Homo sapiens: one gene and its partners. The protein of the gene in region 1 purifies or fractionates together with the protein of each later gene. This does not show direct contact. Each region holds a gene or a part of one and is shown in the gene's direction. Other genes may lie near its edges.

What was found. The genes of interacting proteins can lie anywhere in the genome.
Region 2: the proteins of CLEC5A (region 1) and EMC8 purify together in Homo sapiens (affinity purification with mass spectrometry, with the first as the bait; one large-scale study listed by BioGRID). This does not show direct contact.
Region 3: the proteins of CLEC5A (region 1) and IMMT purify together in Homo sapiens (affinity purification with mass spectrometry; 2 studies listed by BioGRID and IntAct, with this or other methods). This does not show direct contact.
Region 4: the proteins of CLEC5A (region 1) and ECSIT purify together in Homo sapiens (affinity purification with mass spectrometry; 3 studies listed by BioGRID and IntAct, with this or other methods). This does not show direct contact.

The regions. Positions count from the first base shown.
Region 1 is NC_000007.14:141,936,975-141,940,474, reverse strand, and holds part of CLEC5A (C-type lectin domain family 5 member A), read left to right. Parts: intron 1-3,500.
Region 2 is NC_000016.10:85,796,745-85,800,873, reverse strand, and holds the start of EMC8 (ER membrane protein complex subunit 8), read left to right. Parts: upstream 1-1,329; 5' UTR 1,330-1,578; coding exon 1,579-1,809; exon of another isoform or gene 1,810-4,129. Other genes in the region: COX4I1 (cytochrome c oxidase subunit 4 isoform 1, mitochondrial), read right to left, coding at 990-1,006. UniProt on the Homo sapiens protein: Part of the endoplasmic reticulum membrane protein complex (EMC) that enables the energy-independent insertion into endoplasmic reticulum membranes of newly synthesized membrane proteins.
Region 3 is NC_000002.12:86,143,463-86,146,962, reverse strand, and holds the end of IMMT (MICOS complex subunit MIC60), read left to right. Parts: intron 1-765; coding exon 766-895; coding exon of another isoform or gene 896-927; exon of another isoform or gene 928-1,403; intron 1,404-1,475; coding exon of another isoform or gene 1,476-1,593; intron 1,594-2,081; coding exon 2,082-2,695; 3' UTR 2,696-3,027; downstream 3,028-3,500. UniProt on the Homo sapiens protein: Component of the MICOS complex, a large protein complex of the mitochondrial inner membrane that plays crucial roles in the maintenance of crista junctions, inner membrane architecture, and formation of contact sites to the outer membrane.
Region 4 is NC_000019.10:11,519,135-11,522,634, reverse strand, and holds part of ECSIT (evolutionarily conserved signaling intermediate in Toll pathway, mitochondrial isoform 1 precursor), read left to right. Parts: intron 1-84; exon of another isoform or gene 85-704; intron 705-3,441; 5' UTR 3,442-3,464; coding exon 3,465-3,500.

The DNA.
Region 1 (3,500 bases):
CTTGGTTTTTTTTGATGCAGGCACTTATAGGTATAAACTTCCGTCTTAATATCCTACAGGTTTCAGTATGTTGTGTTTTCATTATCATTTGTTAAAAGAAGTTTTTCAATTCCTTTCTTAATTTCTTTATTGACTGATTGGTCATCCAGGAGCATATTGTTTAATTTCCACGTATTTGTGCAGTTTCCAAACTTCCTCTTGTTACTGACTTCTATTTAATTCCATTGTGGTCAGAGAAGATGTTTAATATTATTTCAATTTTTTGAATGTTTTAAGGCTTGTTTTGTTACCTAAAATATGGTCTATCCTTGAGAATGATCCATATGCTGAAGAAAAGAATGTGTATTCTGTAGCTGATGAATAGAATGTTCTATAAATATCTATTATGTTCATTTGGTCTATAGTATAGATTAAGTCCAATGTTACTTTGTTGATTTTCCAACTGAAAGATCGGTCCAATGCTGAAAGCAGAGTGTTAAACTCTCCAGCTATTATTATATTGGAGACTATCTATTTCTTTAGCTCTAATAATATTTTCCTTACATATCTGGGTGTGCCAGTATTGGATGCATATATATTTATATTGTTATATTCTCTTGCTGAATTGACCCCTTTATCATTATACAGTGACCTCCTTTGTGTCTTCTTACAGTTTTTGTCTCAAGATCTATTTTGTCTGAAATAAGTATAGCTACTGTTGCTCCTTTTCGGTTTCCATTGGGATGGAATGTCTCTTTTTATCCCTTCATTTTTAGTCTGCATGTGTCTTTATAGGTGGAGTGTGTTTCTTGTGGGAAATAGATCATTAGGTCTTGTTTTTTCATCCATTCAGCCACTCTATGTACTTTGATTGGAAAGTTTAATCCATTTACATTCAATATTATTATTAATAAGTAAGCACTTACTTCTGCCATTTTGTTATTTGTTTTCTGGTTGTTTTTTGATCTTCTCTTCCTTCTTTCTTTCCTTCCTGTCTTCCTTTTAGTGAAGGTGATTTTCTCTGGTGGTATGATTTAATTTCCTGCTTTTTGTTTTTCATATATCTACTGTATATTTTTTGATTCAAGGTTACTATGAGGCTTGCAAATACTATCTTATAGCCCATTATTGTAAGCTGATAACAACTTAACTCTGCTTGCATTAACAAACAAGTAAGCAAAAAAAGAAAACTAATAAAAACTCTACATTTTAACTTTGTCTCCCACTTTTTAACTTTTTATTGTTTCTATTTATAACTTTGTTTTTACTGTCTATGTCTTGAAAAGTTGTTGTAGTTATCATTTTTATTGGTTCATCTTTTAGTCTTTCTACTTAAGATAAGAGTACTTTACATACCACAGTTGCACTGTTGTGATATTGTGTTTTTCCATGTACCTACTATAATCAGTGAATTTTGTATATTCAGATGATTTCTTATTGCTCATTAATGTCCTTTACTTTCAGATTAAAGAGCTGTTTTTAGCAATTCTTATAGGACTGATGTGCTGTTGATTAAATCCCTCAGCTTTTATTTGTCTGGGAAAGTCTTTATTTCCCCTTCATGTTTGAAGGATATTTTCATCAGATACGCTATTCTAAGGTAAAGGGTTTTTTGCTTCAGCAACTTAAATATGCCATGCCACTCTCTCCTGGCCTATAAGATTTCCACTTGGGGAACATCCCAAGCCCAGTAACGCTGTGGGTCTGCTACCAGACATATTGGAGCTCCACTGTATATTATTTGCTTCTTTTCTCTTGCTGCTTTTAGGATCCTTTCATTATCCTTGAACTTTGGGGGTTTGATTATTAAGTGCCTTAAGGTAGTCTTCTTTGGCTTAAATCTACTTGGTGTTCTATAACCTTCTTGTACTTGGATATTGATATCTTTCCCTAGGTTTGGGAAGTTCTCTGTTATTATCCCTTGGAATAAACTTTCTACCCCTATCTATTTCTCTACTTCCTCTTTAAGGCCAGTAACTCTTACATTTGCCCTTTTGAGGCTATTTTTTAGACCTTACAAGTGTGCTTCATTGTTTCTTATTCTTTTTTCTTTTGTATCCTCTGACTTCTGTGACCCCTCTGATTCTGTTATTAATATACTCTGATGCATTCCTCAGTATGTGAATTTCATTTTTTAACTCCAGAATTTCTGCTTGATCCTTCTTAATTATTTCTATCTCTTAGTTTATCTGATAGAATTCTGAATTTCTTTTCTGTGTTATCTTGAATTTCTTTGAGTTTCCTCAACACAGGTATTTTGGATTCTCTGTCTAAAAGGTCACATATTTCTGTTTCTCCAGGATTGGTCCCTGGTGCCTTATTTACCTCAACTGGTGAGGTCATGTTTTCCTGAATGGTCTTGATACTTGTGGATGTTCATCAGTGTCTGGGCATAGAAGATTTAGGTATTTATTGTAGTCTTCATGGTCTGGGTTTATACCCATCCTTCTTGGGAAGGCTTTCCAGGTATTCAAAAGGACTTGGGTGCTGTGACCTAAGCTCTATCTGCATGGGGGACATCCCAAGCCCAGTAATGCTGTGGGTCTTGCAGACTCGTAGAGGTACCCACCTGGTTGGTCTTGGATAAGATCTGAAAGATTTATCTGGATTACCAGACAGAGACTCTTATTCTTTTTCCTTACTTTCTCCCAAACAGAATCTCTTTCTCTATGCTGACCTTCCCAGACCTGGGAGTGGGGTGACACAAGCATCCCTGTGACCACCACCACTGGGACTGCATTGGGTCAGACCTGAAGCCAGCATAGCACTGAGTCTCACTCAAGGCCCACTGTAACCACTACATGGCTACTGCTTATGTTTTGTCAATGTCCTGGGGCTCTATAATCAGCATATGGTGAAGCCAGCCAAGCCTGTGACCTCCCCTTCAGGGCAGTGAGTTCCACCAGGCCCTAAATAGGTCTGGAGATGCTATCTTAGAACCAGGGACTGGAGTCAAAAACCTTATAAATCTACCTGGTGTTCTGTCCTCCTGTGGCTGAGCTGAAACTCGATTCATGAGACATAGTTCTTTCCACTCTTCCCTCCCCTTTCTGCAGGCAGAGGAGCTTCACCCTATGACCACTACCATCACAGGCCCACAGGGTCACTGCCAGACTACCACTGATTTTTGTTTAAGGCACAGGGGCTGTTTGGTCAGCTTGTCACGAATGCTGCCAGGCCTAGAACCTACCCTTTATGTCTGTGGGCTCCTATCTGGCTCAGGGCAGGTCCAGAAATGCTATCCAAGAGTCAAGGCCTAGAATCTTGGACCCCAAGAGCTGACCTTTACTTCTCTGTGGCCAGTCTGTTACATAAGGTGCAAGACAAAGCCCCCTTTACTTTTCTCTCTTCTTTTCTCAAGCAGAAGAATGTGCTGGGTTTCATCTGAAGCCCAAGACATCTCAGTCTCACCCAAGGCCCATAACATACTACCTAGGTATTGCTGCTTGTTATTCAGGGCCCAAGAATTCTTTCATCAGCAGGTAAGGGATCCTGTCAGGACTGTGTACTTATCTTCAAGA
Region 2 (4,129 bases), on another chromosome or scaffold:
GGCGGACAGATCACCTGAGGTCAGGGGTTCAAGACCAGCCTGGCCAACATGGTGAAATCCCGTCTCTACTAACAATACAAAAATTAGCCGGGCATGGTAGTGGGCGCCCGTAATCCCCGCTACTTGGGAGGCTGAGGTAGAAGAATCGCTTGAACCCGGGAGGTAGAGACTGCAGTGAGCCGAGACCGCACCACTGCACCCCAGCCTGGGCAACCAGAGCAAGAGTCCGTCTCAAACAAAAAAAGGCAAGAAGAAAAAATGCTAACAAGGTGACTCTGAAAAAGCTAGAGATCATTAAAGCACTGTGCTGCCGTGACAGACTCCATTCTTCAGGGAGCGGTGGGGGGAGGTGACAGCTCACAGGGACCGTGGCACGCATCACATTCAACTGAGTGTTTAAAACCTAATACCGCCTGTACATAGACTAGAAGGGGAAATTGGAGAAGGCTGCCAACACAGCCCCGATCAATTTCCAATCCCTGAGGAGAGCGGAAAACCTATGAGACCCCCCCTCACCCGGGCCCTCCTCTATTCAGGCCCATCAACCTTACACGGCCCCCTTTAAATCGACCCTTCGGAGGACTGGTGAGAGTGATGTGGGGAAATACCCTCCTTGGGGCAGAATAAACAAGCATGACGTCAGGGCTGAACGCCCGCGTCTAGCTTCTCTCCTTGGGCCTAGCCCTTGCGTGAGCAAACAATAGGCGCCTTCCAGGCTGGAAAGCCGAGCGCCGCCCGGGAGCCCCGCAAAACCCGGGAGGGGTTGCACAGGGACCTTTTGAAGGAGCAAGGGCGGAGGCTGCAGGCACAGAGCGCGGGCCCGCCTCCCCGCAGCCTGAGCCCTCGGCCAGCGGGCGCTCCAAGGTCAGTGCCCGAGGCCGGTCCGCAGCCGCTGCGAGACCGGGTAAGATGGACCGGGCACTTCGGGGCGGCCCCCCGAGCCTGGAGCCACCGAGCCCGGAGTCCCCACGGGCCGGCCTCAATGTCACCTGGCTCCGAGGCCCATTCGGTGCTTCCTGCTGAAGCCGAGCGGCCAGGCTGCGGACGTGCAGACTTGATGGCTCCCGGCCCCCCGACCCGGCCCGGCCTGGCGGCGCCGCACCGGCCACCTCCTGTCTCACCTGCCGCCACTGCCCGCCGCGACCGCCCTCTACACCCGGTGTCCCGCGACCGGAAGAGAGCAAGGCCGCGCCGCGGAGCACCACGGGATCGAGGAAGACTCCGCCCGCACCCGGCCGCACGGAGGTCACCGTGGAGCGGAAAAGGGTAGCGCTGCGAACGTCGTAAAATGCCGGGCCGGGCTGCTTTCCGGCAGGCGTTGGAGAGGCTGCTTTCCGGCGGCGCCGGGCGAGAAGCGCGACTGGAGTCTGGGGCTGCGGCTTCCCAGAGGCGCGAGTCGCTTTTCCAGGAGCCGAGGCCCAAACGGGGCCGGGCCTGAAGGGTCCCCCGCCAGCCCGCGGCCGCGCCATCAATCGCCGCCGCCTCGTCCCGCTTCTCGGCTGAGGCGCCGCGCGGCCAGGCAGCGGGTCCAGGCCTCAGCCGCGCGCCCAGGGGCCTCCGGGGCCCTCCCGGGTCAGCATGCCCGGGGTGAAACTGACCACCCAGGCCTACTGCAAGATGGTGCTGCACGGCGCCAAGTACCCGCACTGCGCCGTCAACGGGCTCCTGGTGGCCGAGAAGCAGAAGCCGCGTAAGGAGCACCTCCCCCTGGGCGGCCCCGGCGCCCACCACACCCTCTTCGTGGACTGCATCCCCCTCTTCCACGGCACCCTGGCCCTCGCCCCCATGCTGGAGGTGGCTCTCACCCTGGTAAGCGCGGAAAGGGCCCCTTCCCCTTGCAGGCAGCCTGGCCTCCCCTCAGTCAGCAGAGAGGAAGCTGGCCCAGCGGTCGCCCTCCAGCAGGCTCCTAGGACCCGCTCCCTAGGGTTGCCGTGGCCAGGAATGGGGTGATCCACGATGGCGCTTGGGTCTTGGCGCTGAATAAATAGCGTCCCGTAGTAGCAGCGACTTTAACCGTCGTGGATGCTTTTAGAGGCACTTTAAGGCGACGAGTTATACGTTAGTTTCCTGAAATCAGTAGCCTTTGTAGAAACAAGTCATCGTTCACTTGGTGGGGATTCGACAGAGTTTCCCTTGAGGATTTCGAGTTGCAGGAAGTGTTCACGTTGTTGGGACATTAATCGCTAGGATTTGGTTCTTCGCACCTTCGCAGAGCCGATTCCTTATCTGGCAAAGTGTAAATGCTTCTTTGGCTGTCGGTACTCGGGCACCCCGGAGCTCAGACACTTGTAGAAAGGTAGTTGCATGGTCAGATCTGTGTGATGCATCTTAGGCCTGGCTCCCCTTGATTGAATGTGCCTGAGCTTTGTGTAAAGAGAATTTGTTCCCGTTAATGGTTAACAACTTATCTAGAATGTTTCCATGGCTTTTAAAAGCTAAAGAATTTCTGTGGGGCCGGGCGCGGTGGCTGACCCCTGTAATCCTAGCACTTTGGGAGGCCGAGGCAGGCGGATCACCTGAGGTCAGAAGTTTGAGACCAGCCTGACCAACATGGTGAAACCCCTTCTCTACTAAAAATACAAAACTTAGCCGGGCGTGGTGGCGGGCGCCTGTCATCCCAGCCACTCGGGAGGCTGAGGCAAGAGAATCGCTTGAACCCAGGAGGCAGAGGTTGCAGTGAGCCGAGATCACGCCACTGCACTCCAGCCTGGGTGACAGAGCAAGACTCCGTCTCAAAAAAAAAAAAAAAAAAAAAAAAACGAATTTCTGTGACATTAAACAGCAGGAGCAGACGATCTGTCCAACACGCTTTTATGTTTTTGTTTGCAATGACAGCTTTATTGAAGTACAGTGGGAAAAAAGATGTAGCATGCAGGTAGACTAGTTGGTAAGTGAATTTTAGGCAGTAGCTTTTCAGTTCCGGTGATCAATGAAGGGAAAAAGACCATCTATAAATTCCATCGAGTTGTTAAAACCTGAAGGAAAAGTAAACTGTAGCTTCAGACCTGCATACCTGAGCTGAGGTGCTGTTTGTTTTTCATTTAAGAATAAACTGTGATGCTAAAAAATAGTAGCTAATTGATGTAAGAAGTAGCTAAGCTTGAGAAGGTGTAAGTAGAATTTCTTTATCTGTGTCCCTCCTCCACCAAGTAAAACGAAGCCATTTCATAATCTACCATTTATAACTTAACTAATTATGACACCCAAGTCAGTTCTGGGCAAGCAAGAAGTATCTCTGGGCAAAGAGTCCTGGCGTAAGGTTCCTGGGCACATCTTTGAGTGCCTGTTAAAGTTAAACTTCATATCATTTCCGGGTAGGATTCAGATGATTATAATACTTAGATGATATTTATAAAACTAAGTATTTTAGCTCTTGAAGATATCTGCTGTCATTACTGAAACACCACTGGGGAGTGTGTGTGTGTGTTTTAATCCAGGTCTTTCCAACCATCTTTTTGTTTTTTTGAGATGGAGTTTCGCTCTTGTCACCCAGCCTGGAGTGCAATGGCATGATCTCGGCTCACTGCAACTTCCACCTCCCAGATTCAGGTGATTCTTCTGCTTCAGCCTCCCAGGTAGCTGGGATTTCAGGCGTCCACCACCACACCCAGCTAATTTTTGTATTTTTAGTAGAGATGGGGTTTCACTGTGTTGACCAGGCTGGTCTTGAACTCCTTACCTCAAGTAATACGGCCACCTCCGCATCCCAAAGTGCTGGGATTCCAGGCATGAGCCACTGCGCTCAGCCTTTCCAACCATCTTAATTGTTCTGTTGTCAAGAGAATTATTGGATCTGTGAAATGCATTGACTTGCAGGGAGCTAGATTCATCAGTAGCATTTATGCGGGATTATTCACTTTTCTAATAAATGTTTTTGAGTATCTGCTTTGTGCCAGGCCCGTGCTGAGGAGGGATATGGCTGTGGATGAAACACAGTACCTGCTTAGCACTTGAAGGTGCAGCAAGCCAGCAAGCACAGCACCTAAACCTCACAGGCGGAGCTTAGTAAAAAAGTGGCAAGGGATTCGAGAGAAGTCAGCCAGCCTAGGCTTGGGCAATCAGGGCAGTCAGGTTGCCCAGAGAAAGGAACATGCAGGCAGCGGGCCAGCCTTTGACCCTCAGGAGGTGG
Region 3 (3,500 bases), on another chromosome or scaffold:
ATGGCGAAACCCTGTCTCTATTAAAAATACAAAAATTACCTGGGCATGGTGGTGCATGCATGTAATCCCAGCCACTCCGGAGGCTGAGGCATGAGAATCGTTTGAATCTGGGAGGTGGAGGTTGCAGTGAGCTGAGGTTGTGCCACTGCACTCCAGCCTGGATGACAGAGCAAGATTCTGTCTCAAAAATAAAATACAGTTGGCAGTTTGTTTCTGACTTTAACAGCCTTCTCTCTTCTCTTGGTATGCCTCCTCTAATATTAGGTTCCATCAGTAAACCTGTAAAGAATTATATACATCGGCCGGGCACGGTGGCTCACGCCTGTAATCCCAGCACTTTGGGAGGCCGAGGTGGGCGGATCACGAGGTTAAGAGATCGAGACCATCCTGGCCAACATGGTGAAACCCATCTCTACTAAAAATACAATAATTGGCATGGTGATGCATGCCTGTAATCCCAGCTACTTGGGAGGCTGAGGCAGGAGAATCACTTGAATCTGGGAGGCGGAGGTTGCAGTGAGCCAAGATTGTGCCACTGCACTCCAACCTGGCAATAAAGCAAGATTCCATCTCAAAAAAAAAAAAAATATATTATATACATCAAATATGAGTCAGGACATTTTTGAAACTTTACACAAAATGTAGGAATTTCGTGACAACTCTAAGGCCCTCTTTGCTTCAGCAAGTAGTTGCTGGAAGATTACACAGTTACATGACATGCATTGAGTATCACTTTTTTCTGGAACTATTTCTGTTTTATTTCAGAACCTGTCTGAGAAACTCTCTGAACAAGAATTACAATTTCGTCGTCTCAGTCAAGAGCAAGTTGACAACTTTACTCTGGATATAAATACTGCCTATGCCAGACTCAGAGGAATCGAACAGGCTGTTCAGAGTAAGCATAAGCTATGTTTATCTTACAGATAATTTTCCTCAGCATAATTTATCAAAATAATTTTATAGGGAAAATGGGGTACATGTACTGACATCAGGACATAAAAATACTAATCACTCTACTTAATTGCAGTTTTTGCCATTAAAAGTAATGGCAAAATCTATATAACTAGAAATTTATACCTTGTATGACAAACACAAAATCACCATTTACAAGGCTATTTACCCAGTATCCTTTGGCTATGTCGCATGTGCCTGGGTGGTAAGGGCTAGGGGTCAGTGTGGTCCCATGCTTGCCTTCCACAGACTTGGTGGGTTATCTGGAGGTGGTGATTTGCCGAGTCCAACTACCAAATGGACAGTATTTATGCTGAGGCCTCCATGTGCCACATTGAAAGAGAAATGTCATGACAATGAGGGTATTAATAAAATGGGTTTTTTTAGGATGTTATGGAATCTTTTTTTGTCACATAACAATAAAAATAAATTCAATACTCATGGAATTTCAAGATCCAGTAGTCTGTTAAGTTCGTTTGAAGTCTCCCATTTCTTTTTTTTTTTTTTTTTTTTTTTTGAGACAGAGTCTTGCTCTGTCGCCCAGGGTAGAGTGCAGTGGTGTGATATCGACTCACTGCAGCCTCCGCCTCCTGGGTTCAAGCGATTCTCCTGCCTCAGACTCCTGAGTAGCTGGGAATACAGGTGCGTGCCACCACGCCTGGCTAGGTTTTGTATTTTTAGTAGACACAGGGTTTCACCATGTTGGCCAGGCTAGTCCTGAACTCCTGACCACAAGTGATCCACCCACCTCGGCCTCCCAAATTGCTGGGATTACAGGCATGAGCCATTGTGCCTGGCCCTGAAGTCTCCCATTTCTTTGCAGAAAATTTCTCATGGCCTTAGCGTTAAGTCTTAGCCTAATTTAAATAATATGTTTCTTTCTCAACTAGTAAAGGTAAAAATATGTGGATTAGATATCATGCAGATGTGAATGACTTCTGACTTTGATATGAAGAGGCCAGCTAGGAAAATACACCAGAAATAAGTGGTGGGGGTGGGGTTGTAAGAAAGTCTCTCTGGCCTCATCTTGCACATGTGTAGATGTAGCTTGTTGAATGTGCATCAGTTCTGTGGATGTATGTTGTCAGATGGAGAGAAAAATGTTTGGCTTTGCCTTTTTTTCTTTGTAGGCCATGCAGTTGCTGAAGAGGAAGCCAGAAAAGCCCACCAACTCTGGCTTTCAGTGGAGGCATTAAAGTACAGCATGAAGACCTCATCTGCAGAAACACCTACTATCCCGCTGGGTAGTGCAGTTGAGGCCATCAAAGCCAACTGTTCTGATAATGAATTCACCCAAGCTTTAACCGCAGCTATCCCTCCAGAGTCCCTGACCCGTGGGGTGTACAGTGAAGAGACCCTTAGAGCCCGTTTCTATGCTGTTCAAAAACTGGCCCGAAGGGTAGCAATGATTGATGAAACCAGAAATAGCTTGTACCAGTACTTCCTCTCCTACCTACAGTCCCTGCTCCTATTCCCACCTCAGCAACTGAAGCCGCCCCCAGAGCTCTGCCCTGAGGATATAAACACATTTAAATTACTGTCATATGCTTCCTATTGCATTGAGCATGGTGATCTGGAGCTAGCAGCAAAGTTTGTCAATCAGCTGAAGGGGGAATCCAGACGAGTGGCACAGGACTGGCTGAAGGAAGCCCGAATGACCCTAGAAACGAAACAGATAGTGGAAATCCTGACAGCATATGCCAGCGCCGTAGGAATAGGAACCACTCAGGTGCAGCCAGAGTGAGGTTTAGGAAGATTTTCATAAAGTCATATTTCATGTCAAAGGAAATCAGCAGTGATAGATGAAGGGTTCGCAGCGAGAGTCCCGGACTTGTCTAGAAATGAGCAGGTTTACAAGTACTGTTCTAAATGTTAACACCTGTTGCATTTATATTCTTTCCATTTGCTATCATGTCAGTGAACGCCAGGAGTGCTTTCTTTGCAACTTGTGTAACATTTTCTGTTTTTTCAGGTTTTACTGATGAGGCTTGTGAGGCCAATCAAAATAATGTTTGTGATCTCTACTACTGTTGATTTTGCCCTCGGAGCAAACTGAATAAAGCAACAAGATGAAAACTGAGTATCTTATCCCTTTTCAAAAAGTACAGTTCTGGCCAGGTGCAGTAGCTCACGCCTGTAATCCCAGCACTTTGGGAGGCTGAGGCGGGTGGATCACCTGAGGTTGGGAGTTCGAGACCAGCCTGACCAACATGGAGAAACCCATCTCTACTAAAAATACAAAATTAAGCTGGGCGTGGTGGCGAATGCCTGTAATCCCAGCTACTCGGGAGGCTGAGGCAGGAGAATCGCTTGAACCTGGGAGGTGGAGGTTGCAGTGAGTCAGGATCGCACCATCGCACTCCAGCCTGGGCAACAAGAGCAAAACTCCGTCTCAAAAAAAAAAAATTCTAGTTTGTTGTATGTACAGAAAATATCCTTGAGAAACAACAACAGCAGAAGTAGGAACTTCTAGCTCACAGTTTCCAGGCTGTGAATTGCGTCACCAGAAGTCCACAGCCTGCTTTTTGCCTTTGAAGGTTTTGGTGAAT
Region 4 (3,500 bases), on another chromosome or scaffold:
GCAAGCAATTCTCCCACCTCAGCCTCCTGAGTAGCTGGGATTACAGGCATGTACCACCATGACTGGCTAATTTTTTTTTTTTTTACCGGGGCGTTCCTGAGTTTACGTGGGGCACACCTGGGTGAGGGCCCTACCCCTAGAAGAAGGTGTTGGGCCTTTTGGTGGTGAAGCGTGGCTTGTGCTGATGGCGCAGGACCTGGTGGGGCAGCGGGAACTTGATCTTGGAGTCTTGGAACTGCTTGACGGCCAGCCGGTGGGACTTGCTGGCTGCTATCTCCTCCATCTTCATGATCTGGATGGAATGGGTCCAGGTGGGGTACCGGGCGCCCATGTCTCGGTAGCACTGGGTGACAGCGCCCGTGGTGGTCAGGTCCCAATATTCCTGGTACATGTTGTGGGTGCTGCTCTGGGAGTTTGTAGCGCAGCCAGATGCCGAAGTTCTTCACCCGCAGGCGGTACTTCTCGAATGCCTGCCCACAGTTGACAGTCTCCCCGAAGACTTCTTCATCTTCTTTAGCTGAGATACAAAGTACCAGAAGTGGGACTTGGCAACGACATGATCAGGTGCAAAGATTCGCATGTGGTAGAGGGGTGGTGTGTGGCATTTGGGAGTGAGCAGGCAGCAACCCACCACCTTGTACTCTTGTAGTGTGCCCGAGGCCTTCATGGCATCCTCTCCATGCTTGCCGCCACCGGCAAAAGGAGCCTGGCTAATTTTTGTATTTTTAGTAGAGATGGGGTTTTGCCACGTTGGTTGGTTGGTCTTGAACTCTTGACCTCAAGTGATTATCCTGCCTGGCCTCCCAAAGTGCTGGGATTACAGGCGTGAGCCACCACACCTGGTCTTATTCTTATTTTTCAGACAGAGTCTTCCTCTTTCGCCCAGGCTGGAGTGCAGTGGCACGATCTTGGCTCACTGCAGCTTCTGCCTCCTGGGTTCAAGTGATTCTCCTGCCTCCGCCTCCTGAGTAGCTGGGGACTGCAGGAGTGTGCCCCCAGCCTGGCTAATTTTTGTTTTTTTGTTTTTTTAGTAGAGATAGGGTCTCTCCCATGTTGGCCAGGCTGCTCTCGAACTCCTGGCCTCAGGTGATCTGCCTGCTTCGACCTCCCGAAGTGCTGTGATTACAGGCGTTAGCCACCACGTACAGCCATAACTTTTACTGAAAAAAAAAAAAAAAATCCACGTATAAATGGACTTATGCTGTTCAAGCCTTTGTTGATGAAGGGTCAACTGTACGTTGCCGATGGGAATGTGAAATGGTGCAGTCATCCCCAAAAACAGTCTGGCAGTTCCTAAAAATGTTAAACATGTAGTTACCATATGTCTCAGCAGTTTGACTCCTAAGTATATACCCAAGAGAAGTATAAACATGTGTTCACATAAAACTTCTACACGAATGTTCATGGCAGTAGTAGTTATAACAGTCAAAAACATTTGGCAAACAACCCCAAATGTCCATCAATTGATGAATGCATAAATAAAATATGGTTATAGCCATACAAAACCTGGTTATATTCCATTCCAAAAACAGTGGAATTGGCCGGGCATGATTGTAATCCTAGCAATTTGGGAGGCCAAGGTGGGTGGATCACTTGATGTCAGGAGTTCAAGACCAGCCTGGCCAACATGGTGAAACCCTATCTCTACTAAAAATACAAAAATTAGCTGGGTATGGTGGCGGGTGCCTGTAATCCCAGCTACTTGGGAGGCTGAGGCAGGAGAATCACTTGAACCCGGGAGGCAGAGGTTGCAGTGAGCCAAGATCATGCCATTGCAATCCAGCCTGGGCAACAAGAATGAAACTCCATCTCAAAAAAAAAAAAGCCCGGGTGCGGTGGCTCACGACTATAATCCCAGCACTTCGGGAGGCTGAGGCGGACGGATCACAAGGTAAGGAGTTTGAGACCAGCTTGGCAACATGGCGAAACCCCATCTCTACAAAAAAATCTATAAATTAGCTGGATGCAGTGGCACACACCTATAGTCCCAGCTACTCAGGAGGCTGAGGCAGGAGAATCGTGAGCCCGGAAAGCAGAGGTTGCAGTGAGCTGAGATTGTGCCACTGCACTCCAGCCTGGGAAACAAAGCAAGATCCTGTCTAAAAATAAAAATAATAAAAATTAAAAAAAAATCTATGCATGAACCTTGAAAACACGTCAGTGGGCCAGGTGCGGTGGCTCACGCCTGTAATCCCAGCACTTGGGGAGGCTGAGGCTGGCGGATCACTTGAGGTCAGGAGTTCGAGACCAGCCTGGCCAACGTGATAAAACCCCATCTCTACTAAAAATACAAAAATTAGCCGGGCGTGGTGGCATGTACCTGTAATCCCAGCTACTCGGGATGCTGAGGCATGGGAATCGCTTGAATCCGGGAGGCGAAGGTTGCAGTGAGCCGAGATGGCACTATTGCACTTCAGCCTGGGTGACAGAGCGAGACTGCATCTCAGAAAAAAAGAAAAAAGAAAAAAAACATGTCAAGTGAAGGAAACCAATCATAAAGGAGCACTTGTGATTCCAGATTCCATTTGTATGAAATGGCCGGCATAGGGAGATCTATAGAGACAGTGGATGAGTGGTTTCTTGGGGTTGGGAGTGAAGGGAAATTGAGTGCTAATGGGTACAGGGTTTCTTTCTTTTTTTTTTTTCTTCTTTTTTTTTTTTTCTGGAGATGGAGTTTTGCTGTTGTTCCCCAGGCTGAGGTGTAATGGCATCATCTTGGCTCACTGCAACCTCTGCCTCCTGGGTTCAAGCAATTCTCCTACGTCAGCCTTCCCAGTAGCTGGAATTACAGGCGTGCGCCACCATGCTCGGCTAATTTTTTGTATTTTTAGTAGCGATGGGGTTTCTCCATGTTGGTCAGGCTGGTCTCGAACTCCCAACTTCGAGTGATCCGCCCGCCTCAGCCTCCCAGAATGTTGTGATTACAGGCGTGAGCCACCGCGCCTGGCCAGGTACAGGGATTCTTGTTGGAGTGACACAGATTTTGTAAAATTAGATTGTAGTGGCTAGGAGTGCTGGCTCACACCCATGATCCCAGCACTTTTGGAGACAGAGATGGGAGGATCACTTGAAGCCAACAGTTCGAGACCAGCCTGGGCAACACAGCAAGACCCTGGGTCTCTGCAAACTATTTTCAAATTAGCTGGGCATGGTGGCACGCGTCTGTAGTCCCAGCTTCTCGACGCTCTGGGGCTGGAGGATCACTTGGGCCCAGAAGTTGGAGGCTGCATTGAGCTATGATCACGCCCCTGGGGCAGCAGGATTAGGGTGCTGTCCCAAGAACAAAGTCTTTGAGTCATCAGCCTGTTTCTTGGGTAAGGTAAACATTGGGGCTGGTGAGTGAGCCACATAATCTGGAGTGTGCCCTCGACCCTGCGGGGCCCTTGCGTCTGTTAGCATCTGTAAGGTGCCAGGCTAATGCTGAATCTTCTTTTGGGCCAGGTGATTGTCTGACAAGCAGAGGCATGAGCTGGGTCCAGGCCACCCTACTGGCCCGAGGC